Homo sapiens: one gene and its partners. The protein of the gene in region 1 purifies or fractionates together with the protein of each later gene. This does not show direct contact. Each region holds a gene or a part of one and is shown on either strand. Other genes may lie near its edges.

Region 1 (7,522 bases):
CCGCCCCTACTGGGAAGTGAGGAGCCCCTCTGCCCGGCCACCACCCCGTCTGGGAGGTGTACCCAACAGCTCATTGAGAACAGGCCATGATGACAATGGCGGTTTTGTGGAATAGAAAGGGGGGAAAGGTGGGGAAAAGATTGAGAAATCGGATGGTTGCTGTGTCTGTGTAGAAAGAGGTAGACATGGGAGACTTTTCATTTTGTTCTGTACTAAGAAAAATTCTTATCCTGTTGATCTGTGACCTTACCCCCAACCCTGTGCTCTCTGAATCATGTGCTGTGTCCACTCAGGGTTAAATGGATTAAGGGCGGTGCAAGATGTGCTTTGTTAAACAGATGCTTGAAGGCAGCATGCTCGTTAAGAGTCATCACCACTCCCTAATCTCAAGTACCCAGGGACACAAACACTGCGGAAGGCCGCAGGGTCCTCTGCCTAGGAAAACCAGAGACCTTTGTTCACTTGTTTATCTGCTGACCTTCCCTCCACTATTGTCCTATGACCCTGCCAAATCCCCCTCTGCGAGAAACACCCAAGAATAATCAATAAAAATAAATAAATAAATAAATAAAAAGAAACATAGAAAAGCTACCACTCAAAAAAAAAAAAAAATTCACTAGAAGAGTTCAACTGCACATTTGAGCTGGCACAAAAATCAGTGAACTTGAAGATAGGTCAATTGAGATTATCCAGGCTAAGGAACAGAATGAAAAAAGAATGAAGAAAAATAAACAGAGCATCAAAGACCTATAGGAAACCATCAAGCATACCAACATATGCATAATGAGAGAACCAGAAAAAGAGGAGAAAAAGGAAGGAACAGAAAGAATATTTGAAGAAACGATACAAGGAAACTTCTCTAATTTGATGAAAAGCATTAATCTATACATCTAAGAAGCTCAATAAACTCAAAGTAGGATAAAATTCAAGAGATCCACACTGTAACACATCATAACCAAACTTTCGAAACATAAAGAGAGAATACTGAAAGCAACAAGAGAGAAGCAACTCATCAAAAATAGGGAATCGTCAAAAAGATTTCCTATCTGATTTCTCACTAAAAACCACGGAGGCCAGAGGCAGTGGAAAGATACATTCAAATTCCTAAAAGAAAAAGACTGCCAACTAAGAATTCTAATTCTAGCAAAACTATTCTTTGAATATGAAGAAATTATGACTTTCTCAGATAAACAAAACCAAAGAGAATGTATGCTAGCACATCTTATCTATGAGAAATACTAACCTGGGTCTCTCAGGCTGAACTGAAAGGACAAGAGACAGTATACTTGAATCTACATAAAGAAATTAAGAACACTGGTAAAGATAACTACATAGGTAAATATAAAAGAAAATATAAATGTATGTTTGGTTGTGGCTCTTTTCTCCTATGTGATTGAAAAGACAGCTGCATAAATCAAGAATTATAAATCAGTGTTAATGGATACTGTATTAATGTAGAAAGATGTAACTTACACAATAATAGCATGAAGGAAGGGGAGGGAATATATAGGAACAAAATTTGTAAACTTAAACTTAGTTAGTATTAATTAATATAGATTGTTATAAAATAAGGTACTATTTGTAAGTCCCAGGGCAACCACTGAGAACTCAAAAAATATTTAGTAAAAGAAACGTCAAGGCCGGGTGCAGTGGCTCACAACTGTATTCCCAGCACTTGGAAGGCCAAGGTAAGAGGATCACTTGCGGCCAGGAGTTCAAGACCAGCTCAGGCAACAGAGTAAGAACCTGTCTCTACAAAAAATAAAAAAATTATCCAAGCATCGTGGCACACACCTGTAGTCCTAGCTACTAGGGAGGCTCAGGCAGGAGAATCACTTGAGCCAAGGAGCTGGAGGCTGCAGTGAGCTATGATGGCGCCACTACACTTCAGCTTAGGCGATTCTGTCTCTTAAAAAAAAAAAAAGAGAAACATCAAGGAAATTAAAATGGTACATTAGAAAATATATACTTAATACAAAAAAAGGCAGAGAAAGCAATAATGTAGTAATTAAGGAATGAAAAAAATTACTTGATATACAGAAAAAATAGCAAAATGACAGACATAAATACTACCTTAAGCATTAGTAAATACATTAATTGTAAATGGATTCAACACTCCACTCATAAGTCAGAAATTGCTAGACTGAATAAAAAGAGAAATAAATCTCTTCTGCATAACCAACAAGAGATAAAACTTAAAATATCTAAATATCTCATGAAAACTATCACCATTTATTAAACATTCTTCTCATTCAGCAAAATGGAAAATAGGTATTCATTGCCACTTGTCTTCTGATTCAGGGTGGCCCATTTAATGTCATTCAGCTTTCACAGGCTTATTTTGTTTTTCATGCCCAATTTTGGCAAACTAAGCAAAAGGTCTAACCTAATTTTAAGTTGTCTGTATAAAATTCGTAATTAAAATGATACTTAATCTCATCTTTAATCACTATCTTTTACTGATGTCTAAGCATGTAGTTTTTAAATAATATTCATATAAGCCCATCTGTCAGTGAAGCATATTCATAGATTAATGGATCTTGCATAACACTGCAGCACTGTCTTTACTACAATTGCAGAAGTTCTGAATTCTCATAATATAAAATGTAAGCAGCTTTTTAAAATGACTATGTAGACCTACTCTTTAACCACAGGGCTGAATATAATAAAAAACATAGGAGGTGGTAGACACAGAAAAGCCAACCTTCTCTGAATACAAGGAAAAAGTGATTTCATACTTCACAAACTAATTATTTCATTCACATAGTCCATGTTGAAATGTAAATACCAAAATGTACATATCCTTCTAAGGAAAACAAATTGTTTTACCAGAATTATAACAGAGCTCATTTTATAAAGTAATTAACATTATTTTTTATCTCCATTTATTAAACCTATAATTACAAAATTCTTCACATTTCAAAATAAATAAATTGTTGTATCCTCTACTAGTCACAGTAAATATGATCCTAATTATTTAAGTAAAATTGTATGGCATATAGCCAACAATAATCTTTACGCCACTTAGAAAATAAGAATAGACTTAAGAGGATATAAATTTGGACAAACATTTCAGAAGTACTGATAACATCTCATGCTAATTTGCTAATCTGCTTAGTAAATTTATTGTTAGCATTAAAATTAATATATTCAAAATAAACATAATATATACAAAATACCTAAAATAACATAATACTCATAGTATAGCCTACAAATAAAAGCACAGATTCAGGAAGACTTGTGAACAAACTCAAGCTCTACCACTTACTATTAATACAACCTTAGGTAAGTTTGCTCACTTGGAGACAGTTTCCTTTGTCTATGAAATGGAAAAAAATGTTACTACCAAAAAGTAGCAGTTGGAATTCAATAAAACAACATACATAAAGGGTTTTACATGAAGCTAGGCACAAAGATTTCTATAATTCTTATCAAAAGAAGAGCACAGGTGGTATATTACATTATACGTAATTCATCAGTAATTCTGTATAGATCAGTGGAAACAAAATAGTATAGGCAGAAAAGTTATTTAATGATTACAGACTCTAAACCGCTTAAAAAACGGTTTGAACTAGACCGATTTCTAAGGAACTCTGTTTCTGAAATTCAAAGATTCTACCTTAAGGTGATGCCCAAAAAGCCAATGATACTGACCCCAAATTTCTTACAATAAATAGCCTAAAGAACAAATTTCAAGAGCACCAAACAGAGGCAGTGGATATAAGAACCTGAAAAAAAAATGTATATACTTTGAGTGATAATCATATTTTTATAAATTACTTTGAAAAATTATCAGAGTTAAGCACAAATATTTAATGTTAATTTCAACAGGGAAAACTGAAATACAATTTTACTATTTAACAATAAGAAAATCATTAAATGATGGGCATATCCATATAACACAATAACCCATAACCATTACAAATCAAGTTTTCAAAATAATTCATGATGCAAGTACTCCCAATGTGATTCTGAGTGAAAAGGGCAAAATATAAAACAATATTAACAATTTTGTTTTTAAAATATATTTGCAAAAGAAAAGACTGAAAGAAAAGCCACCACAATGTTTGCAGCAGTTACCTCAGATTACTGAAAATAGGGTAACTTTTTTTATAGTCTTCCTTTATTTCCAACTTTCTACTGTAATCAACTATCATGTTCACAATCAAAAAAAGCAATATAACATTCACTTGTGATTAAATTTTAAAGCTCTAAGCAGGAGTTAAAGAGAACTTCCTTGGCTGGGTCAAAATGATATCCACAAAAAACTTACAGCTAACTACTCAATGGTAAAAGACTGTATACCTTCTCTACTAAGATGAAGAGCAATGCAAGGATATCTGTGCTGATCTGACTTGTTCTAGTTAACATTAGCAAAGGTCCTAGCCAGTGCAAAGAGACAAGAAAACAAAATAAAAGGCAAACAAATGAGAAAATGTGAAATAAAGCTGTCTCTACCAGCAGACAGCAGTAGCTACAAAAGCTACTAGAACGAACTCGTGAGTTTAACAAGGTTGTAAAATTCAAAAATTCAAGATCAATATTAAAATACTGATTCACTTACATAAGTAATTGGAAATTTAAAAATTTTTAAAGGTTACTGTTTACAACAGAACCAAACAACATAAAACATTTAGATACAAACATAACAAAATATGCGCAACATTTTTATGCGGAAAGCTTAAAAACAGAGAGAAATCAAAGACCAAATAAACGTAGAAAGGTTGTTTCATTTTGTTTTCTCTCTTGAAAGAGGCTCTCTCTGTTGCAGAGGCTAGAGTGCAGTGGCATGATCACAACTCACTGCAGCCTCTACCTCCCAGGCTCAATCAATCCTCCCACCTCAGCCTTCCAAGTATCAGGGACTACAGGTGCATGGCAACACACCCAGCTAATTTTTCTCATTTTTGTAGAGATGCGGTTTTGCCATGTTGTCCAAGCTGCTCTTGAACTCCTGGGCTCAAGCGATCCTCCCACCTTGACCTCCCAAAGTGCTGGGATTACAAGCATGAGCCATAGCAGTGGGACAGGAAAGGTATTTTATTAATGGATTAGAAAACAACATTTTTAAGATGTCAATTCTCCCCAAATGGATCCATAACTTCAATGCAATCATACTAAAAATTCCACAATGCTTTTATATAGAAATAAAGAGATTCTAAAATGTACATGGAAAGAAAAAGAACTCGAATACTCAAAAATTTTTGGCAAACAACAACAAAGTTGGAGGACTCAGGCTTTTTGACTTCAAGATACACTATAACGCTACCATAATAAGGACTGAGGTTTTAGCCAAACAGACGCACAGAACAATGGAACAAAATAGAGTCCACAAAGCAAACCACACAAACATACTCAACTGATTTTTAACAAGGCAAGCCAAAGAAATTTAATGAAGAAAAGATAGTAATGAGAGGTGAAGCCGGCTGGACTTCCGGGTCAGGTGGGGACTTGGAGAACTTTTCTATCTAGCTAAAGGATTGTAAATGCACCAATCAGAGTCTGTGTCTAGCTAACAGTTTGTAAACGCACCAATCAGCACTCTGTGTCTAGCTAATCGGGTAGGGGACTTGGAGAACTTTTCTGTGTAGCTAAAGGATTGTAAATGCACCAATCAGCGCTCTGTGTCTAGCTAAAGGTTTGTAAATGCACCAATCAACACTCTGGCAAAACGGACCAATCAGCACTCTGTAAAACGGACCAATCAGCACTCTGTAAAATGGACCAATCAGCTCTCTGTAAATGGACCAATCTGCAGGATGTGAGTGGGGCCAAATAAGGGAATAAAAGCAGGCCACCCGAGCCAGCAGCAGCAACCCCTTCGGGTCCCCTTCCATGCTGTGGAAGCTTTGTTCTTTCACTGTTCGCAATAAATCTTGCTGCTGCTCACTCTTTGGGTCCGCACTATCTTTATGAGCTGTAACACTCACAGTGAAGGTATGCAGCTTCACTCCTGAAGCCAGCGAGACCACGAACCCACCAGGAAGAACGAACAACTCCGGACACGCCACCTTTACGAGCTATAACAATGAGCTGCAACACCCACCACAAAGGTCTACAGCTTCACTCCTGAGGCCAGCGAGACCACAAACCCACTGGGAGGAACAAACAACTCAGGACACGCCACCTCTATGAGCTGTAACACTCACCGCAAAGGTCTGCAGCTTCACTCCTGAAGCCAGCAAGGCCACAAACCCACCAGGAGGAATGAACAATTTCGGATGCAGCTTCACTCCTGAAGCCAGCAAGGCCACAAACCCACCAGGAGGAATGAACAATTTCGGATGCGCCACCTTTAAGAGCTGTATCACTCACTGCAAAGGTCTGTGGCTTTGCTCCTGAAGTCGGCAAGACCATGGACCCACCAGAAGGAAGAAACTCCAGACACATCTGAACTTCTGGAGGAACAAACTCCGGACACACCATCTTCAAGAACTGTAACACTCACTGCGAGGGTCCGTGCCTTCATTCTTGAGGTCAGCAAGACCAAGAACCCACTGGAAGGAACCAATTCTGGACACAGTAAGAATAGTCTTTTTCAAGAGATGGTGCTGCAAGACTGGGGCATCCATACACACACACACAGAGAGAGAAAGAGAGAGAGAGAGTCTTGACCCCTACCTCACACTATATGCAAAAATTAACTCGAAATTGGTCACAGACCTAAATCTAAAATTTAAAGCTATAAAAGTTCTGGAAGAAAACATAAGAAAAAAAATCTTTGCAACGTTGGATTAGGCAAAATTTCTCATGATAAAAAAGCACAAATCATAAGAGAAAAAACTGATAAACTGGACTTCACCAAAATTTAAAACTTCTGCTCTTTGAAAGATACTGTTAAGAAAATGAAAGGACAAACTACAGACTCAGACTCGAAGGAAATGCTGTGAACATATATACGATAATGAATTTGTATCCAGACTGTATAAAACACTTGCAAACCAATAACAAACAACCCTATTAAAAACGAACAAACGATTTCAGCAGACACTTAATCAAAGAAGATACACAGATGGCAAATAATAGCACAGGAAAAGACGCTCAATATGTTAGAAGAAAAATTCAAATTAAAACATAAATGGGTTTTCACTAAACGCATATTAGAATAGCTAACATTAAAAATAAAATGACAAGTGCTGACCAGAATGTGGAGCAACTGGAACATCAAACATCACTTGCGGGAATGCAAAATGAAACAGCTACCTTGGAAAACAGTTTGGTAATTTCCTTCTTTTTTTTTTTTTTGTTTTTGAGACGGAGTTTCACTCTGTCACCAGTCTGGAGTGCAGTGGCACGATCTTAGCTCACTGTAACCTCCGACTCCCTGGTTCAAGCAGTTCTCCTGCCTCAGCCTCCTGAGTAGCTGGGATTACAGGCACCCGCAACCACGCCCAGCTAATTTTTGTATTTTTAGTAGAGACGGAGTTTCACCATGTTGACCAGGATGGTCTCAATCTCCTGACCTCGTGAGCTGCCCACCTCGGCCTCCCAAAGTGCTGGGATTACAAGTCTGAGCCACTGC
Region 2 (7,522 bases), on another chromosome or scaffold:
ACAAAATCATCCAACTACCTCATTTTCAAATAAAATCTCTTAGGCTAAAGAATACTAAACAGTGTGGCAACATGTTTAAGCCAAAACCACACCTAGAGTCCTGAATTCTAGTCTAGAACACCATTTTGACATACTATATCTACTTAAGCAATTAGGAACATAATACTTAGCTATCTCTTAATCAAATATGTACTGCCAAAATAAGGGATTAAGAGACTGGGGATAATAGCTTGTAAACTACAAGTGATTATTATCCTAATATAGTTTTTTAATAATCAGGAATTTGCCTAGACCAAACATAATCTTCAAGGAAAATGTCACAATGACATGCTTAACATACCCAGGCACAAAATAGTACAAATATATAAAAACAACATAAAGATTATAATTCCCACAGCTCCTTTCCATTCATGCAAATCACTTTCTATTCCAACTGTGAACTAATACTTGTGACCCTTCCACAAAATGCCTGGGAAGTGTGCAAAACCTCCAGTTATAGGGACTTCTTTCAAAGTAATCCATTCTACTCTGCAGTTATCCCCTTTAAGTGTATTAATGGTAAAATGTAAAAGTTGCTAAAATTTTCTCTGGAAACAAATTTTAGGCAGTACTCATTGAGACAAATCTGTTTCCTTTCATCTGATTCTTCCACCTACCAAATCGAAACTCGTATGTCTTAAAATAATACTTACCCAACACCAAGAATGCGTTCACCATGCTTGGTGATGTTTTCCTGACACTCGGTCTTATTTCCCACATGGAGATGATTAACTTGACTACATAAATTCTGGAGAAAAGGCAGCAACTCGGAGTTGGGTATATTTGAGTTGTCACTTACTTTCTTTGGTAAGAAAGAGGCCATTGCATTTTTAAGATCATTTTCAAGAAAGGAATGGTTTTGAGGCATAACTTTACACTCATCAAGCTTGGTAGAATTCTCTCCACCAGGCAGTTGTGTACTTTTATCAATGTAAGTTTGTAAGTTTTCAGTCACGTTCCCAGATGTCAATCCAGTTCTAAAAGGAAAAGGTGTGGAGGACGACTTGTTTAAGGTTCCTAAGGTAGATGAGGATTGTAGTCCAATCATATGCTTGTATCCAGAATTGCCCAACACCGACTGAAGCTGCTCTCCAATGGGAATACAATTCTAAACAAGGTAAACAAGTAAATGTTAATATTAATAACACTGACAGCTAACTTTTGGAGTAATTACTATGAGTCAGGCACTGTGCATTGTTTCATCCAATCCTCAAAACATCCTTATAAAGTAGGCCACTAATACTATCCCAATATTAAGCTGAGGAGACCAAGGCTAAAGGTACCTAGCCAAGGTAACCAGCCAGTAAGTGGCAGAACTGGAACATGAACGCAGGTCACTTAACTCCACAGTCATGACTTTCAATCATTTCATTGTAGTTTTTCCCAAAAGAAATTAAATAAATACTAGCATGAATAGTCAAACTGCACTGACACTAATGTTTCCACTACAAATGTCTCTTTATGATAATAAAATGTACTACTCTCAACTGAGTCACAAGAACCGGTAAGTTTCTTAAAATTCAATTATATCATTCCCAACTGTCAAAATACGGTAAGTTACTCACTTTCATCTAGTAATATCTTTTGCAATGAATTTTTCCTGGAAACTACACAGATAGGTATGCTATTTAAAGTTAGATGCTCTATGGGTACATTTGTGACATTTTCAATGACTGAAATTAGCTACTTCTGGCTGTGTTTGCTCTAAGAATTTCCAGGATAATGAGAGTTGTTTTGCAGCCTCAATTCAACTGGTTATGCAGTATTATTTCCTGAGAAGATTCTGGCTTACCTTGAAGGGATGATTACAGTATCTCCCTTTTATGCTCTTTAATTTTTCCATTGGATAAAAGAAAATATCTCTAGCCTAAGTCTTAAGGCATATGGCTCCACTCTAAATTCAAAACATAAAAGTCTACTATAGATTCTTATCAGGGGTTATCATCCCACACTTATTGCTGTTCAACAGCTGGTGAAACAGACTGAAAAAGCAATATGTAAATTAGCTGAAGAAACTCAGTTCATATACTTATAGATATTCTAAAAAGTTATTACTAGACTAAGCCGGAACAACATTAATTTATTCAACAAATATTTACCAGGAATCTACTCTGTGCTAGTATTGTTTCAAGCACTGGAAATACAGCAGCGAACAAAATAAATTAAAATCCCTGACCTCACAGAGCCTATATGACAGGGGAGCAAGGAGACACAAACTACAAAAGAAAAGAAGGAAAAAGGGGAAAGAAAAGAAAAAGAGAAAGTAAGGGAAAGAGAAAAGAAGTGAAGAAGGAAGAAGAGAAAAAAGTCAAGAAAAGAAAAGAAAGGAAAAAATGTATCATGAAATGGAGATGGTGATAAATACTTTAGGGAAAAATAAAGTGAGAAAGGAGAATAATAAGGGCCAGGGAAGCTGGGGGAAGATTTGTAATGTCATGTCCCCATCTAACTTTTTACCAAACTGCACTTTGGAAAAGTGCTCTTTATAGAGAAATGTTAACCTACTGTAAGTTTATCTTGTTTTATAAAATGCAAGTTTTGAATAAACTTGAATATTTAAATATTCCTGGAATAAGATGAATTATGTAAAATTATATTTATAAAATGTTAACATTGGACAACTCCCCATAAGCTCAAAGAAAGTTACTCAGTCATAACAGGAAAGCCCATTTATTTCTCTATGACATTTCAAAACAAAATGTACAGTGGAAAACTACATTAAGAGTAATAATATTTACACTACAGTCAATGTCAAAAGTATGGGTGAACATTAAGTAGGCAGAACATTTAAACAGAAAAATCTAAATGTAAAGGTATTTGCTATGTAAATTTTTCCTTTCTGACATATAATATTCTGTTTATAAGAATTCACTGATTATGAAAATTAGTCATTGGTTAAGAATGTAAAATAGTATAGCAGTGATGAAAAACAGTATGGAGGCTCCTCAAAAAATTAAAAATAGAACTACCATATGATCTAACAATCCCACTTCTGGGCATATATCCAAAATAACTGAAACTGGGATCTCAAAAAGATTATCTGCACTCCCATGTTCACTGCAGCAGTACTCACAACCGCCAAGATACAGAAACAACCTAAATGTCCATTGACTGATGTATTGATAAAGAAAATGAAATGAAATATCATTGAATGAATATCATACAATGAAATACCATTCAGCCTTTGAGAAGAAGGATATTTTGTCATGTGACAATATGATCAATCTGGAAGACATGCTAAGTGAAATAAGCCAGGCACAGAAGAATAAATAATGGATGATTCCATTAACATGACATATCTAAAATAGTTAAACTCAGAAACAGAGAGTAGAATGGTGGTTGCTAGGAGATGGGGGGAAGGAGAAATGAATTGCTATTCAATAGGTATAAAGTTACAGCTTTACAAGATGAATCTGTTTTAGAGATCTTCTGTACAACAGTGTCTATAGTTAACAACACCATATTGTACATTTAAAAATTTGTTAAGAGGGTAGATCTCATGTTAAGTATTCTTACCACAATTTAAAAAAGGTCACATTTTCTGAGATGAGAGCTCTTTAGATGATCTTTTCTCTTTGGAATAAATATCAAGAAATTCAGATATGTCTACATGCCACTATAGGAAATGAAGAAATCTCAGGTGCCTGGTAGCTAATCCTTTATTTCTCTTTATGTGAGCCTCCACTGTTAACATGCTATTAAAAATTTTGAAGAAACTTAAATATCCATGAATAGGTAACTGCATAATATTCATAAAACCATAGAAAGCTGTATTTATTGATATCCTTTCAAGTGAAAAATGTTCCTGAGCAACATATGCAGTATGAAAGCATTTAGAGAGAACTGTGTCCATATACTTACAAAGATATGTGTATGTGTATATGTATAACTACATATATTCTGTATACACACAATAGAGATTTCTGAAAAAATAATAGTTTATCTTTAAATATATTGTAGGATTTAGGAAAGTATGAATTTCCTATACCTTTTTGCTTTTTAATTTTTTTGTATCACCTTTAATAATCAGAAAGAAATTAAATAATAAAGTCATTTTTATTTTGAAGGAGAAAAAAGCAAGAGTATAACTCCTAAATAACTGAATATGTTTTCTTTGAGAAAATGGGTCATATCCTTTCATTCAGATAACATTAAATGACAATCATATGCTACACCCTTTGATATAGAATTCCTATTCAAGAATTCTAAATTGCTAAAGCAAAAGCAAATCAAAGCCAGCAAACTGAACTTCAAATAGAAGGAAATAAAAAATAATCTTAATACTTATTGAGAAATCACAAAGGTTTGGATTGCATTTCAGACTCACAAAACTTGGCGTGTTGAACTTTAATCAAACTTTCGAGAAAACAAGTAATTCCAAGGCACAGGTAAGCCAGAGAGAAGCCAAAACTTCTGAGGTCCTTCCTTTCCCCCAAGAGAAGTCCTGCCCAAACAACATGTGTGATCACACCACTTACACGGAAGGAGTTGATTTGGTCATGAAACATTCCCATTTTATGTGCAGAAAGTTACACAGCTTATATGACATTCTCTATGCCTTAGAATGTATAGATGCCTAGTTTGTCATCAATAAGCAATCCTAGAGAACCAGGTACATCCTGTAAGAATCACTCCATAAATAAGGACTTTTCTTACTAGGAAGGAAGTCTTCCATTAGCATGTTTAAAAGGACACAGAACTGTTTATCACCTTCTTTCTTCCCCAGGGTGTCCCAGAAATGTCCCTGCATTAGTGGTGAGAAGAAAGTAAGTTATTGTACAGTGTACATAGCAGTAACCCATGAGTGTTGGCTGAGGGTGGGGTGGCATGGGGGAGAGCCTTCTGTGTTGCTACATGCATAAAAAAACTCTACAAGGATACACGCCAAACTGTTAGCTGTGTATCCTCTGGGGTATAGAATGACAGCTGGAAAACATTTTTAATTTTTACCTAACACTTCTGTATTGGTTAAAATTCATGGCAAAGAAAAATTATTTATAAATAAAACTATAAAAATTTAAAGACACAGCCAAAATAAAAATATATCTAGTTTCATTTTTTCCTAGTGTCAAGATTTTAAAATAATCAGACAGTAAACTAATTAATATCCTCTAATCGTTACCAAAATTTGTTCACAAACAATTGCTTCCTTTTTAAAATCTTCCATTAAAAGAGTTATTATCATGTAATCCAGCACATAAACAGAACCAAAGACAAAAACCACATGATTATCTCAATAGATGCAGAAAAGGCCTTTGACAAAATTCAACAACCCTTCATGCTAAAAACTCTCAATAAATTAGGTATTGATAGGACATATCTCAAAATAATAAGAGCTATCTATGACAAACCCACAGCCAATATCATACTGAATGGACAAAAACTGGAAGCATTCCCTTTGAAAACTGGCACAAGATAGGGATGCCCTCTCTCACCACTCCTATTCAACATAGTGTTGGAAGTTCTGGCCAGGGCAATTAGGCAGGAGAAGGAAATAAAGGGTATTCAATTAGGAAAAGAGGAAGTCAAATTGTCCCTGTTTGCAGATGACATGATTGTATATCTAGAAAACCCCATCGTCTCAGCCCAAAATCTCCTTAAGCTGATAAGCAACTTCAGCAAAGTCTCAGGATACAAAATCAATGTACAAAAATCACAAGCATTCTTATACACTAACAACAGACAAACAGAGAGCCAAATCATGAGTGAACTCCCATTCACAATTGCTTCAAAGAGAATAAAATACCTAGGAATCCAGCTTACAAGGGATGTGAAGGACCTCTTCAAGGAGAACTACAAACCACTGCTCAAGGAAATAAAAGAGGATACAAACAAATGGAAGAACATTCCATGCTCATGGGTAGGAAGAATCAATATCGTGAAAATGGCCATACTGCCCAAGGTAATTTACAGATTCAATGCCATCCCCATCAAGCTACCAATGACTTTCTTCACAGAATTGGAAAAACTATTTTAAAGTTCATATGGAACCAAAAAAGAGCCCGCATCGCCAAGTCAATCCTAAGCCAAAAGAACAAAGCTGGAGGCATCACACTGCCTGACTTCAAACTATACTACAAGGCTACAGTAACCAAAACAGCATGGTACTGGTACCAAAACAGAGATATAGATCAATGGAACAGAACAGAGCCCTCAGAAATAACGCCGCATATCTACAACTATCTGATCTTTGACAAACCTGAGAAAAACAAGCAATGGGGAAAGGATTCCCTATTTAATAAATGGTGCTGGGAAAACTGGCTAGCCATATGTAGAAAGCTGAAACTGGATCCCTTCCTTACACCTTATACAAAAATCAACTCAAGATGGATTAAAGACTTAAACGTTAGACCTAAAACCATAAAAACCCTAGAAGAAAACCTAGGCATTACCATTCAGGACATAGGCATGGGCAAGGACTTCATGTCTAAAACACCAAAAGCAATGGCAACAAAAGCCAAAATTGACAAATGGGATCTAATTAAACTAAACAGCTTCTGCACAGCAAAAGAAACTACCATCAGAGTGAACAGGCAACCTACAGAATGGGAGAAAATTTTTGCAACCTACTCATCTGACAAAGGGCTAATATCCAGAATCTGCAATGAACTCAAACAAATTTACAAGAAAAAAACAAACAACCCCATCAAAAAGTAGGCAAAGGACATGAACAGACACTTCTCAAAAGAAGACATTTATGCAGCCAAAAAACACATGAAAAAATGCTCACCATCACTGGCCATCAGAGAAACGCAAATCAAAACCACAATGAGATACCATTTCACACCAGTTAGAATGGCAATCATTAAAAAGTCAGGAAACAGCAGGTGCTGGAGAGAATGTGGAGAAATAGGAACACTTTTACACTGTTGGTGGGACTGTAAACTAGTTCAACCATTGTGGAAGTCAGTGTGGCGATTCCTCAGGGATCTAGAACTAGAAATACCATTTGACCCAGCCATCCCATTACTGGGTATATACCCAAAGGATTATAAATCATGCTGCTCTAAAGACACATGCACACATATATTTATTGTGGCATTATTCACAATAGCAAAGACTTGGAACCAACCCAAATGTCCAACAATGATAGACTGGATTAAGAAAATGTGGCACATATACACCATGGAATACTATGCAGCCATAAAAAATGGTGAGTTCATGTCCTTTGTAGGGACATGGATGAAATTGGAAACCATCATTCTCAGTAAACTCTCACAAGAACAAAAAACCAAACACCGCATATTCTCACTCATAGGTGGGAATTGAACAATGAGAACACATGGACACAGGAAGGGGAACATCACACTCTGGGGACTGTTGTGGGGTGGGGGGAGGGGGGAGGGATAGCATTGGGAGATATACCTAATGCTAGATAACGAGTTAGTGGGTGCAGCGCACCAGCATGGCACATGTATACATATGTAACAAACCTGCACATTGTGCACATGTACCCTAAAACTTAAAGTATAATAATAATTAA
Region 3 (7,522 bases), on another chromosome or scaffold:
TTTTTGGTGTTATAGCCAAGAAACCACTGCCTAATCCAAGGTCATAAGAACTTATGCCTATATTTTCTTCTAAGAGTTTTAGAATTTTAGCTTACATTAGGTCTTTACCCCATTTCAAGTTAATGTTTGTGTATGATAATGAGGTAGGAGTCTAAACTCATTCTTTTGCATCTGCTTCTCCAGGTGACCCAGTGTCATTTGTCGAAAAGCCTATTCCTTCCCCAGTGAACTATCCTGGCATCCTTGTTGAAAACTGACCAAAAATGTAAAGGTTTATTTCTAGACTCTCAATTTTATTCTAACAATCTAGATGTCTATCCTTATGCCAGTACCACAATGTCATTACTGTAGCTTTGTAATAAGTTTTGAAATTGGGAACAGTGAGTCCTCCAAACTTTGTTCTCTTTTTTCAAGACTGTTTTTGCTATTCTGAGTTCCTTTCATTTCCATATGACTATCAGAAGTGGCTTGCCAATTTCTGCAGAACTGCCTAGGATTTTGATAAAGACTACACTGAATTTGTAGATCACTTTAAGTGGTATTGCCATCTTAGCAATATTAAGTGTTCTAATCTAATCCATGAACACGGGATGTCTTTCACTTATGTCTTTTTAAATTTCTTCCAATGATGTTTTGTTGTTTTTAGTGTTACAGTTTTAGTTGTACACTTGTTAATTTATTCGTATGTATTTATTCCTTTTATGCTACTGTAAATGAAATTGTTAATTTTATTTTCAGATTCATTGTTAGTGTACATAAACATGACTTCCGTGTATTGATCTTGTATCCTGCAAACTTGATGAACTCATTTATCAGCTCTAATTGCTTTCTGTAGATTCCTTACTATTTTCTAAATATAAGATCATGTCAGCTGCAAATAGAGATAGTTTTATTTCTTCTTTCCAATCTAAATGACTTTCATTTCCTTATGTTGCCTGATTTCATTGGTTATGACCTCCAGTACAATGTTGAACAGAAATGGTGAGAGCAGAATCCTCATCTTGTTCCTGATCTTAGGAGAAAAGCACTAAGTCTTTTGCCATTAACTACACTGTTAGCTATGTTTTTTGTAGATGCCTTTTATCAGCTGCAAGAAATTTCCTTCTATTCCCAGTCTGCTGAGTGTTTTCTTTTTTAATCACAAAAGGAGGCTGGAATTTGTCAAATACTTTTTGTGTTTATTCAGATGATCACGCAGTTTTTGTCCTTTTTTCTATTAATATGGTGTAATAAATTGATTTTTGTATGAAGAACCGACCTTGCCGTTCCTTAAATAAATCCTACTTTTCATGGCATATAATCCATTTCATATATTGCTGAGTTCAGTTTGTTAGTATTTTGTTCAGGACTGCGAAAAGTTGTGTGGTTTTTTTTTGTTTGTTCTGAGCCCAGGCTAGAGTGCAGTGGCATAATCACAGCTCACTACAGCCTTAACTCCCCAAGCTCAGGTGATTCTCCCACTTCAGCTTCCCAAGTAGCTGGGACTACAGACAAGCACCACCACATGCAGCTAATTTGTTTTCTGTATTTTTAGTAGAGATGGGGTTGCACCATGTTGCCCAGGCTGGTGTTGAACTCCTGGCCTCAAGTGATCCACTAGCCTGGGCCTCCCAAAGTGCTGGGATTCCAGGCGGGACTCACCGGCTGCAAAAAGTTTTAAAACATGAAAAACACCACCATATATTGTACTATGTATCACTATGTATCATTCAGGGGTATATACATATGTATAAAAACATAGGGAATTATATACAACAAATTGGGATAATGGTGACATCTTGGGGAAAAATAAGAATACAACTGGAAAAAGGTACAGAGGAACCCTAAGTATACTTGTAATATCTTATTTCTTAACATAGCTGTACTTGCAACGCTCGTGTTATTATTTAAACCTTTTTTATATATCTGAAACATTTTATAATAATAATTTTTTAAAACTTGGCTTGTATTTTTCCCATAACCTCTTCTTTTTTGAGACAAAGTCTCACTATGTCGCCGAAACTGGCCTCAAATTCCTGGGCTTAAGAGATCCTTTCACTTCAGCCTCCCAAGTAGCTGGCACAATAGGCGTGTGCTACCATACCCAGCTTCTCCGTGCCCTCCACCTCACCCTACCCCCTGCAACATTTAAAGAAAGGTTACAGATAAGAAACAAAAATTGCTGGCTGGCTGTCTTATACACTCTATTGCAATTCAAGACTGAAGAAGACCCAAATTACTGCTACACTGTCTGAAATGCCTTTTCACCCTTCAAGCTTCAAAAAACCACAAAGGTAACTGCTAGGCAGAGTTAACCATACACACTGATTTTTATTCCTTTACACAGGCATATTACACTATAATTAATCTATCTTTATATCTGCTTTCCTTACTAAACTATAAATTCCTTAATAGCCCAGAATCAGTCTTTTTCATATTTGTAGTTCCAGCTCCTAGCATGTCCTGGTAAACATTACATGTCCTGGTAAACATTACATACATTACATGAATAAATTTAGTAAATCAAGAAATAATAAAATGAAAATAGGCCTCAGTAATCCAAATTTTTATTAAAAGATTGCATTAAGGCCTGGGGCAGTGGTTCACGCCTATAATCCTCAGCATTTTGGGAGGCTAAGGTGAGCAGATCACTTGAGCCCAGGACTTCAAGACCAGCCTGGGCAACATGCAAAACTCCACCTCTAAAAAAAAAAAAAAAAAATTACACAACAAATAGCTGGGCGTAGTGGCATGCAGCTGTAGTCCCAGCTACTGAGGAGGCAGAGGTGGGAGAATCACCTGAGCCCTGGAGGTCGGGACTGTAGCGAGCCAAAATCATGCCACTGCACTCCAGCCTGGCAACAGAGTAAGACTCTTAAAAAAAAAAAAAAATTGGCCAGGTGCAACGGCTCACACCTGTAATCCCAGCACTACAAAAAAAAATTAGCCAGGCATGGTGGCCTGCGCCTGTAATCCCAGCTACTCAGCAGGCTGAGGCACAAGAATCTGTTGAACCCAGGAGATGGAGGTTGCAGTGAGTTGAGATCGTGCCACTGCACTCCAGCCTGGGTGAGAGTGAAACTGTCTCAAAAATATATATATATTGCATTAATATATTGCTGCAAAAGCCAAAAATTCAAAGGTATAGTGTCAATCCAAGATTAAAAGTTTAGAGCAATTCAAAATAATGGTAAGTCTAAAGATTTGTGTTCTAGTCCTGGCTCTACAGCTGACCAGCTGTGTGATCTTATTTTATTTTACCTTTAAAGTGAGGACGTTATTTCTTGAAGTCCTATTAGTTCTAAAATTGAATTTGCTGAATTTTAAGCTTTGGACTTGGATGAAAATATTTATATAGGGGAATATTTGTCATTTTGACTGCCTGAAATCCCTTTCTATTTGGAAAGAACCCAAATAGGTGAATGCAGCCCCCCTCCCGCCCACAAGCAGTTAAAGCACAGCTCCTAATTTAAGTGAGGTTAGAGACTTCTAGAAGGGGCTTTGCATCTTGAAGATAACACAAAGGCACAGGATCTTGAGGGAGCTGGGAGTCCAGGAGTACAACCAATCTGGGGGAAAGAATGCCAGCAACACTGCTCTAAGTAGATTATTCCTGCTGCAGGTCTTGGTCAACCTGTACCCTGGCCTTGTCAATACTGAGTGACCTAATACCGTTTTGATTAATTCCTTTTTGGCTTAAATTAACCAAGACCAGTTTCTTTGTTACAACCAAGAACCCTGACCAGCTGCAAAACCATAGAGAAACAGAGAAGGAACCTTAGGATAGGCATTTAGATGTTGCAGAAGAAGAGCAAAAGCAAAACCATAGCTAGATTTGCTCAGAGAACAATCAGGCACCATAGGGCATCGATTACAGCATTTTTGAGGTCTATAAAGCATCCTTCAACAATAACTAAGCACAACTCTTGAGTGTCATTCTTTAAAAAAAATTTTTTTCTTCATTGCCCAAGCTGGCCTCAAATTCCTGGGCTCAAGTGATCCTCCAGCCTCCCAAGTACAGGCACATGCCACAACACCTGGCCCGAATTATCATTCTTGCCACATAATAAAGGGGAGCATGTTTCCACTGGTGGAATGTCGTACTAAAACATCAGAGGCTCATAAAATAATTACATAGTTAATAAAGTTTTAAGAAAATTATTAACTATAGGCAACATTTTTTCATGACCTTCTAAGAATCAAGGTGGTTCAGAGCATCTGACCCACTGCTTAATCAAGCTCTCCTATATAATTAAAGGTTACTAGGTGGCTTTGACTAAAATTATGAAAAGGGACGGAAATGTCTTGTGGAGACACAGTATGAATGATAGAGCAAGACTGCTTCACGAAAATGTAAATGATCAAGTTATTTTTTCCCAAGGTTTAGGAATCCCTGAAGGGTCTGAACTTCTAAATGCTAACATGACAAGACCCAATTAACATACAGGAGCACAAAGTCATTCACTAACATATATGTGGAGAAAAGGAAAACCTCTCATGACACATCTCTTTAGGCTGCTGTGCCCAATCTTGTTTGGATGGGATGGGTGGCTAAACCTTCACATCTTAAGAGACTTAAGAGAGGACAGAAGGACAAAAGAGATTATTCCCAAAATAGTAAAATCAGCAGATTAGAAAAAGGATCAAGAAAAGAGAGACCATGCCTTTCTTTCTCCAAAACGAAAATCATTTCAATATCTGAAAAAGGCTGGACCGAAAGCTATAGAAACTGAAAGCAAACAAACCATGAAAACAAAGTAAGTGAAACAACATTTGGTTCATCTAGGGGTCCTGCCCTCAGCATGGAGCTTGGTGTAAGGCTCCAAAATTACTTAAATGAAACCATCCCTACAATTAGGAATTTCAGTCAGACAACAGCCTCACTTCACATAATTCTCCTCCTCTTCAAATTCCAAGTTATTGTCAAAGTCAGGTTCTACTGATACGGGACACACCTAGAAATAAAAGACATAGGAGTCAGGCGCAGTGGCTTATGCCTGTAATCCCAGCACTTTGGGAGGCCAAGGCAGGCGGATCACTTGAGATCAGGAGTTGGAGATCAGCCTGGCCAACACAGTGAAACCTTCTCTTCTAAAAATAAACACACAAAATTAGGTGGGCGTGGTGGGGCATGCCTGTAGTCCCAGCTACTTGAGAGGCTGAGGCAGGAGAACTGCTTGAAACCAGGAGGTGGATGCTTCAGTAAGCCCAGATCACACCGCTGCACTCCAGCCTAGGCAACAGAACAAGACTCCATACCCCCCAAAAAAAGACATAGAGCCAGGCGCCTGGCTCTCAGCACTTTGGAAGGCCAAGGCGTGAGGACTGTTTGAGGTCAGGAGCAGGAGTTCGAGACCAGCCTGGCCAACATGGTGAATCCCCGTCTCCACTAAAAATACAAAAATTAAACAGGCGTGGTGGCACCCCCGCTGTAGACCCAGCCACTGGCAAGGCTGAGGCACGAGAATAGCTGGAACCAGGGAGGCGGAGGCTGCGGTGAGGTGAGATCACACCACTGCACTCCAGCCTGGGCGACAGAGTGAGATTATGTCTTAAGAAAAAAAAGAGTCTGGGCGTGATGTCTCATGCCTGTAATCCCAACTCTTTGGGAGGCCGAGACAGGCGGATCACGAGGTCAAGAGCTGGAGACCAGCCTGTCCAACATGGTGAAACCCCATCTCTACTAAGGATACAAAAAATTAGCCGGGTGTGGTGGCAAGCACCTGTAATCCAGCTACTCAGTGGAGGCTGAGGCAGGAGAATCGCTTGAACCTGGGAGGCGGAGGTTGCAGTGAGCCGAGATCATGCCAATGCACTCCAGCCTGGGCGACAGGGTGAGACTCTGTCCCGGAAGGGGGCGGGAGGGAAGGGGAGGACAGGACAGGACAGGACATCAATTAGCTCATTGCAGTTCTAGGGCAACTAGTTAATGGTAAAATAATGAAGACAACCTCAAAAAATTGAGATCTAATTTTATGTAGCTCTGAAGATCTAACAAGGGGTTTAAGGGTTTACCAGTAAGATACCCTGAAGTGACAATGGCCAAAAAAAAAAAAAAAAGTTCCTTTAAGGCAAAAGGACTTTATGCGGATCATTTATCTAGTCAATAACACACTGAAGTTTAACATATCCCGAATGCCCTGAAAGACAGAAAAGAGAAAATGGCCAATTTTCTTTATGCAACTTTAATGGCACTTATTTACTCAAATTTCTGGAGCAATGAACTGTAACTTTTAAAAAACTATGAGGAGGTTAATGGAACATTTTCCCCTAGCCTTTCATTTCTTAACATCCTTCCTCTCTTTGTTCCTGTAACTTTTCTTTTTAACTGTTCCAAAGCAATCAAAAACATGACTACTGTATTTTTCCATTAGATTTGCCCTGGAATCACAGAATGCCAGCTAGCACCAAAAACAGCAATCCCAAGATATTTTCGTTGTTTAATTTAAGACAACTGGGTACTAGAGCAAGTATTAAAAGATCTGATTTCTACATCTGGCCACAGCAGCCAGTCAAAATCACTTCTCAAATTTTCTTGCTGTTGCTTGATTAATAAGACGCTATTTGGTAAGATGTTCTTAAGCACAAAAGACGAGAAGACAAGTTATGCTTTGTCATTCTGAATAGGACTCAAATAACATAAGGAAAACACATGCCACTTTAAGGCACACATTCAAAAAGACACCCTGCACATTCCACCCGCTTAACCAAAACAGCTATGTTAGAATTAGTTTGTGCCAGGACAAGTTGGTACAGAATCAGCACAGATGAGCCAAAGGCTGTGATTTAGGGGCCATGTGACAATCATGCTCTTTTTCCATTAACAATGAAAGAAATGCACTTGAGACACACTCCAACTGTGCTCCATTATGGAAGCTACCCAAAAATCATCTCACTAGAACAAACGAAATCCAAGATGTTCTAAGCTAGCTATGACAACCTCAGCAGTGCCTACTTTCAAGCAAATAGAATACTTAAACACAAAGCAAATAAGTTAATCTGTACCCAGAATATTTTAATAAAATATAAACATGACAAGCTATCAAAACAAAGACCTAAGGAACCACTGTGCAACCAAGATGTAGTTGTTGAATAGCATATTTGCCTTCCTATCACATTAACAAATATTTTAAAAAGAAAAAAAATCCTCAAGATGAACAACATGATCAAATTTTAATTACATGAAAAACCAAATTCAAGCATGAACCAAACAATGAAATGTTAAATGAGGGCCTTTACTATAACAACCCTAAGAAGGGTCAAAGTGCAGCTTGAAAGTGTTCTGGAGTTCATCTGAACTCCTGAAATTCCAAAGCTGGTTAACTCAGAGCAGTCCCTCTTGAGGAGTTGGAGTAGAACCAAGAGTATTTCAATTGCCTCCAGGTTTCAGGGACAGTCTGACCAGAGGCTCAGTCATGAACTGGTCTGATCTCTCTGCCATGATAAATACTGACTAACTCAAATGCTTACTATGTTCATTTCCTATCTTTTTTCCCCACTAACTCCCCACTAACTCTGTTTAGCACTGCTAAACAGAGGCTCC
Region 4 (7,406 bases), on another chromosome or scaffold:
AACAAAAAACCAGTGGTGGCTCCCTATTGCCTTCACAGTCTAACCCCGTCCAACTTCCATTGCCACCCAGTCTGATTGTGCTTGCCATATTAATACCCACCTCCCTGCTCGGTCCCAGCTGTGGTCCCACACATGTACCTGGGAAGCCCTCCAGCTCCTCTCCACCCATCAGGGCTCCACTGGATCCTGCCTCCTCCAGGAAGGCTTCTCTGCCTCCTGCTCCTCCAGGAAGGCTTCTCTGCCTCCTGCTCCTCTACAAAACACTCTGGATGCTTGAGCAGTAGGAAGCCTGCCAGTCTCCTCTCAGGCCCCCAGGCAGGGAGGAGGCCACATACCATCTCAGTAAAGTGTCTCCCTATATGGGGGCTACTTACCCTGGTGAGTAGCCTGCAAGAAGATTGTAGGTGGGACCCCGACAGGACTTTAGATAAACAGTCACAATGCAAAAAAAGTCATTTACACATCTTTTTCAATCTTGGTTGTGTCCAGCAAAAGCCTCAGCTTAGAGCTAAACTGTTTCTTTTGTTTTTTGTTTGTTTGTTTGTTTGTCTGAGACAGAGCCTCACTCTGTCGCCAGGCTGGAGTGCAGTGGCGCAATCTCGGCTCACTGCAACCTCTGCCTCCCAGGTTCAAGCTATTCTCCTGCCTCAGCCTCCCAAGTAGCTGGGACTACAGGTGCACACCACCACGCCCAGCGAATTTTTGTATTTTTAGTAGAGATGAGGTTTCACCATGTTGGCCAGGATGGTCTCGATCTCTTGACAAGTCAAGTGATCCGCTCACCTTTGCCTCCCAAAGTGCTGGGATTACAGGTGTGAGCCACTGTGCCCCGCCGAGGGCTAAATTGTTTTAACCCCTCTCTAACACAGACTATGTCCCTTATTTTTCCCCATTTTTCAATCTTTTATTAGACTTCAAAACAGGACGTCTGACTTTTAAATGTTTTATTGTGGTAAGATATATATATATATACACGCACACACACATACATATATGTAACAAAAGCTACCATTTTAAGCATTTTTAAGTGTAGATTCAGACCAGGTGGGTTGGCTCGCACCTATAATCCCAACACTTTGGACAAAGCCCTAGTGGTAGGACTACTTGAGCCCAGGAGTTCGAGACCAGCCTGGGAAACATAGCAGACCCTGCCTCTATAAAAAAAAAAAAAATTTAGTTGGTCATGGTAACGTGCCCCTGTAGATCCACCTACTCAGGAGGCTGAGGTGGGAGGACCGCTTGAGCCCAGGAGGTCGAGGCTGCAGAGAGTTGTGTTCGAACCATTGCACTCCAGCCTGGGTGACAGAGTGAGACCCTGTCTCAAAAAAAAAAAAAAAAGGGGTACAGTGCAATGGCATTATCTACCTTTACACTGTCATGCAAACATCACCACATCCCATGTCCAAAACATTTTTCATATTCTCAAACTGAAACTCCATACCCATGAAACAGAACTTCCTGTTCTCTACTCCCCCAAGCCCTTAGCAATCACCGTTCTATTTTCTGTCTCTTGAATTTGACCACTCTAAGTGCCTCATCTTAGTAGAATCATACAGTCTTTGTCCTTGCGTGACTGGCTCATTTCACTTAGCATGACGTCTTCAAGGTTCCTCCGTGTTGTAGTGTGTCAGACTCTCATTCCTTTTAAAGGTTGAATCACATTCCACTATGTGTATAATACATATTACATTTTGTTCATTCATCTGTTGATGGACACTTCAGTTACTTCCACCTTTCAGCTATTGTGAATAATGCTACAATCAACATGGGTGTAGAAATGATGCCCCTTCTTAACAAAGAGAACGTTTCTAGCTAGACTTTACTAACGTTGTTTTATTTGCATACTATTTATTTTTATGATCTTTTTCTATTTGTGGCAAGTTATACAAATTTTCTATTTACCTAGCTATATGAAATAGGCTTTAAGATACAAGTAGGTCCTACAAAGTGAAATGATTTAAAGAAAAATGCTAGGTAAATAAGGGCATGTGTTAGTGGCAAAAAGTGGTGGCAGTAATACAGGAAAACAGAACTGCTGAAGTGTGGGAAATATTGACACACGCCTCAAAAACCTGACTGTCCTGAACTGAGTGGGACAGGCTGCCAGAGAGAAACCCTGCCGAGACCACTGGGGAGGTTGACGCCAGATTAGCCTTGCATTCAGAGAGGCGCCTGGGGGTGTTGTTCTAGAAAGAGAACTATGGTAAAATTGAAACAGTCAGATCTGGGATCTGACATCTCATAGGGTGACCCCGGGCCAGTTACTCGAGACGATCCTCTGGCCTCTGCCTCCCAAGTTAGCTGGGGCTACAGGAGCGTACCATCACACCTGTCTAAACTTTTTATCTTTTTGTAGAGACAGAGTGTCCCTATGTTCCCACGCTGGTCTTGAACTCCCGGCCTCAGGCGATCCTCCCGCTTTGGCTTCCCAAAGCACTGGGATTACAAGTGTGAGCCGCCGTGCCCAGTCCAGTCATTTCTGATCTTCACTTTTCTCATTATGAGAGGGTGGTAATAACACCCAGCCCCTAGGTAACTAAGATAACATCATGCGAGCTGCCAAAACCTGTGGCCAGCACCTACTTTGGTTCTACGATCGGGTGGGTCACGTCACCCCACCCTAGCCCCTGCAAAAGACATCCTCAGGACAATATTTACTGCTTCTTCCTAAGGAGAGAAGGCCTGATAGTGATGAGGTTATAGCTGGAGTTCAGGTGCACCATCAACTCAGTCTCCACCACCTTCCCCAGCCCCATTTCCACCTCCAAAAACTCTGGGCAAGACCTCTGGGCTCTTGATCCAAGGCTGTTACTGGCTGTAGGACCTTGTGCAAGTCTGAGCCAAGAGCCTCTCTGAGCCTTCATTTCCTCAGCTGTAAAATGTGGATGCCCTTGTCCTCTGAGTACTCAAACCCCACATACATCTCCTATCTATCTCTGGCTGGTGAACAGACGCTTTCAACATTCAGCCACGCATAACAAATACAAAGCAAATGAATCGACAAGTGAAACTGCCAGTCTTGCAACGTATGGGATTTCATGAAGTTGGTGGAAGCAAAGCAGGAGAAATGGAACAGCCGCTGCCCACAGAGAAAGGGAACGTCTGCAAGGGAAGTGACCCAGACCCGAAAAAAGGCACTGGACTATCAAAGGATTCAGAGTGATCCTTGAGTTTGAGGAAGCTCTCAAATATTTTTGCAAAAATGAATCTCTTACTGCAAAAACCAGTTCAGAAGGGAAGGATGCTACATACTCAACTATTACAAGAAAAAGCAAGACTTCCAGTGTTAACATCTGATTCATTCTTGGTTCATTTTAAGGCGTGCGTGGTTGCAATCATAATCTAAACTCCGTTAATCACGGGGTAAAACTAATTTATCTTCGTAATATTTAGCTTCTTTTTCTAGGTAAAATCCCAATCAGGCCAGGTTTTCCCCACCATCTTGGTGAATTGTTGGTCTTCTTTTAAATAGATTCACCTCGGGGGCCTTCCAGGGTACAGGATGTAGTGGGGAGTCCTCCAGACGCCTGTCCCGGCTTTCCAGTCAAGACCACAAACATCCTACCCCCAATAGAGAGAAAGCCCCAAAACAGCTGGGCGTCCCCGAAGGCGAAGTACCGTAATTCCCCAGGGCCTGCCAACCACCATCGCAATGCAGAGAAAAGTCTCCGCCCGCCGGGCCGAGTGCTCCCCGCGCCCCCCACCTCTTAACAAGCGCAAGGTTGCTTTCGTCAACCCTTCTGTTGTACAGAAAGAGAAACTGAGGCCCGATGGGCACAGACTTGTTGGCCCACTTCCACTCGGTGGCAGAGCTGGCCCAGGGAAAAATGCAGGTAACAACAGTGAAGACTTGGTAAGCTCGCTCCACGTGCCGAGCTGGGACCCGCGGTGGCCGTTTCTGCTGGGGGCGCCTAGTACGTAGTTGGCGCTGAGGAAACCTGAACCAAGAAAGCCGAGCCCCCCCGCAACTCTCGGCCCCTCACGGGGGTGGGGCCTCCGTTGGGGTACGGCCCGCTCTGCAGCAGAGCCCACCGCCCCGGCCCGCACCCCTCGCCCCGAAGTTAGGCTGGAGCCCCCACCCCAGCAGCTCGGTGGGCCGGGGTCACAGCGGGGCCGCAGCCTGCGACCGCTTCGGGGGCCCCGCCGCTCCCCCTGCTTCCCCTCCCCCCGGGAGGGAGGAGGAGACTCCGCGGCCCTCCCTCGGCCCCTCCGGCGGCGGTCGCAGCTGCACGGTGCCCGCTCTACCCCGCCGCAGCGGCTGGGACGTACGGAGCCCGCAAGTCCCGGCCCGAGGTGAGCGGGGGCGGCAGGCCGGGGGGCGGCAGGCCAAGGCGGCCCGGGAACTTGCTCCAGGCCGCGCGCCTTCCGCGGGAAGGAAGGGGTTAAGTTGTGGGGCGTGCTGGAGGAGCAGACACAGTCGGGGCGCCCGCGGCAACCCCCGAACTCAGAGCAGAACTTTCTAGACGCCTCCCCGGCCTCCCTCAGCCCCCGGAACCCCAGGTCTCCGGTGGGGAGGGGCCGCGGGGTGATGGGGGAGGGGAGGCGCCTCCGGAATGCCGCGGCCCGGGCCGGACGGGAGGGGGCGGCGGGCGGGGACGGAATTTGGGACTCTCCCGGGGGACCCAACGTGGTCGCCATGGCGAATGCGGGATGGACGGGCGGCGCTGGCCAATCAGAGCACGGCGCCCTGCCCAGAGCCGCGGCGACTGCCAATGGGGGCCATGCGGTGGGGTGGGCGGGACCGCGCGGCGCGGGCCGGGAACCCCCTCCACCCTCCGCCCGTCGCTAGGTGGAGCGGGGCGGTTCGCAGGGCCAGCGGCTTGGGAGGGGTCGACTAAGTGAGGACTAAGGCGACGCAGGGCTGGGGCTTCAGTTTCAGTACCTTAGGTGGGGGTGGTGTCCACCTTCCCACCCCCGCTCTCCCAGGGCTCTTGTGGGGGTTGGATTGGTTTGGGTTCGGGAGGTCTGCCCACCTGTTAGAGCGTTCAGGAATCTTTTTAGTGCCTCTCCCCATCCTGTAGGTAAGGAAACTGAGGCCCAGAGAGGGCAGGGACTTGCAGATATCACACAGCATATCAGTGATGGAGCTGGGACTAGCGGGATGTCTGCTGTACAAGAGTGAAGAGTTCACGGTGTTGCCGAGAGGGGTGGGGCTGGGGTCGGGGTGGGGCTGGGTCCCCATGAAGGTTCACCCCACCATTCCAGCTGTGCGTATCCACTTGGCCTGGTGCCTGCAGACCCCATCGTGTAGGTGCTCTCGGGGGCATTGTGCCCCTCAGGTGGCTAAGATCCAGAAGAGGAGGCATCCCATCACCAGCTCCCTACTCTGGCCTTGCTGCTGGTCCGCGGTGTGGACACAGACACGTAGCTGTCCCTCTGGGCCTCAGTTGGTCCATATGTAAAGAAAGGAGTTCAAATCAATGATCCAGGCTGTCTCTGTGGCTCCTCAGTCTAAGATGGGGCTACCTGGGAATAGGCCAGGGGTGCCTACCCCTGGGCTTAGGTCCAGCCTGGAGGCCTAGCCGCCATCCCTTCCTTTCCCGCCAGCCAGCTCCCCCCAGAGGTCCTGCAGCTGGATCCTGGGCAGCAGGTCACAGGGACAGGTGCCCGCAGTCTGTGGGCTGACCAGCCTTGGGCCCTGCACTTATTCAATCAGGCTGTCCTCTGTGGTTTCCCACTGGGCTCTGCTTTCTGTCCACAGCCAGGCCTGTGGCCATGGGCTTGTCCCAGGGCCCTACCTGAAAGGCTCTGGGAGGATCTACAGGGTTTCAGAGCCGGGGAAGGGGTTGGGGCACTGGGCTCCCCATCCCTTCAGCTGGCCCCTGTCCAGGCCTTGGCATTGCTCATTCCTCTCACTGATATGGAGAGACCCATCCAAACATGCTGAGGACAAAACACAACGCTGTTCCCAGTGGGTCAATTAGGCTTCCCCAGGTAAAAGGTGGGACAGCCGACTTGGCCGTGAGATGACCTCTTATTCCAACCCTGGCCAGACAGGCTCAGATACCTACCTGTCTCAGAGCCTGGCCACCGACTGACTCCTGATCTTTAGGATGACTCAACCTTCCCAAACTCTGCATGGTCACAAGGGTACCCCTAAGAGTGGTACCACCTTCTTAGGGGTACCTTCCATCCATCACGCATCTGCTGTATGCTGGGCCCTGTGCTGATGCCCTCGCTCGTGGACTTCAAAGTAAGGCCTTTGCTGTAGAACACGGAGGTGCCTGGTGCTTTGGGAGCATACTCTGTGCAGAGAGGTTAGAGAAGGCTTCCTAGGGGAGGGGACACTGGAGGTGGGTTTTGAAGGATGTGTAGGAGTTTGCTGATGAAGGAAGGAGAGATATTCCAGACAAGTCCACAAGCAACAGGAACCACTGGGTCACTTTCTGTGGGCAGGGCTGATGAGGGCCTAGCCTGCAGCAAGTGTCAGCTCAAAATATTCTTGTTTCTGTCCTGGAGTGAGCTACCAGTGAGCACAGCTGTGGGGCTGGGGTTCAGGAGCCCTGATGGAAGCTCTAAGTGGCACAAGTGTCCCATCTGGATGAGGGAAGCCTGTACTGCCAGAAGAGAGATGGCAGCTTGCCAGGCTTGGCTGTGGGAGGTTGTAGGGCTGTGGTCCCCAGGTGGGGGTGGGGTTGGGGAGATCAAGGCATTTCCTGGAGTTGGTGGCAGCTGAACTTGAAGATGGGTGGGGGTTTTGGAGTCTGGGACATGGGCATTTGGAATACAAACCCAGAGACTTAAAGCAGTAATAGACCTGTCTGGCTGTTGGGAGGCAGGACAACGAAGGGTGGGGTAGGAAAGGCTCCCCGGGGCCTGTGGTGGCCGGTCCCACCGTGACCTGCCCCTTGGTGGGGCAGTATGCCAAGGGAACAGGAGGCCACGCCCCACGCACATAGACACCCCATGGCAAGAGGGCATTGAGCCTGGTGGAAGGGGCGGGCAGGGCAGCTGGGGCATCTCCACGACTGTAAGCCATGCTCTGCGCTGCTGCTGCCCCTCAGTGAGTGTGTGCGTTACCAGGGCTGTGTGTGAGTGTGCACGTTACTGGGGCTGCGTGTGAGTCTGTGCATTACCGGGGCTGTATGTGTGTGTGTGCACGTTACTGGGGCTGTGTGTGAGTGCAGGTCCCTCGGGCCATGTGTGAGTGTGAGTGTTACTGGGGCTGTGTGTGAGTGCGGGTCCCTGGGGCCATGTGTGAGTGTGCGCGTTACTGGGGCTGTGTGTGAGTGCAGGTCCCTGGGGGTGTGTGTGTGAGTGTGTGCATTACTGGGGCTGTGTGTGAGTGCGGGTCCCTGGGGGTGTGTGTGTGAATGTGTGCATTACTGGGGCTGTATGTGAGTGTGTGTCCCCAGGGCTGTGCTGTATGAGTGGGGCAGGGTAGGGGGAGGCGTTGCAAGGCAGGG

The links.
Region 2: the proteins of CCDC91 (region 1) and C10orf88 purify together in Homo sapiens (affinity purification with mass spectrometry; 2 studies listed by BioGRID and IntAct, with this or other methods). This does not show direct contact.
Region 3: the proteins of CCDC91 (region 1) and STARD7 purify together in Homo sapiens (affinity purification with mass spectrometry; 2 studies listed by BioGRID and IntAct, with this or other methods). This does not show direct contact.
Region 4: the proteins of CCDC91 (region 1) and CCDC102A purify together in Homo sapiens (affinity purification with mass spectrometry; 2 studies listed by BioGRID and IntAct, with this or other methods). This does not show direct contact.

The regions. Positions count from the first base shown.
Region 1 is NC_000012.12:28,193,329-28,200,850, reverse strand, and holds part of CCDC91 (coiled-coil domain-containing protein 91), read right to left. Parts: intron 1,909-7,522; exon of another isoform or gene 1,795-1,908; intron 1-1,794. UniProt on the Homo sapiens protein: Involved in the regulation of membrane traffic through the trans-Golgi network (TGN). Functions in close cooperation with the GGAs in the sorting of hydrolases to lysosomes.
Region 2 is NC_000010.11:122,937,013-122,944,534, forward strand, and holds part of C10orf88 (ATPase PAAT), read right to left. Parts: intron 1,148-7,522; coding exon 693-1,147; intron 1-692. UniProt on the Homo sapiens protein: ATPase that regulates mitochondrial ABC transporters ABCB7, ABCB8/MITOSUR and ABCB10. Regulates mitochondrial ferric concentration and heme biosynthesis and plays a role in the maintenance of mitochondrial homeostasis and cell survival.
Region 3 is NC_000002.12:96,198,727-96,206,248, forward strand, and holds part of STARD7 (stAR-related lipid transfer protein 7, mitochondrial isoform 1 precursor), read right to left. Parts: intron 1-7,522. UniProt on the Homo sapiens protein: May play a protective role in mucosal tissues by preventing exaggerated allergic responses.
Region 4 is NC_000016.10:57,533,387-57,540,792, reverse strand, and holds the start of CCDC102A (coiled-coil domain-containing protein 102A), read left to right. Parts: upstream 1-4,221; 5' UTR 4,222-4,293; intron 4,294-7,406.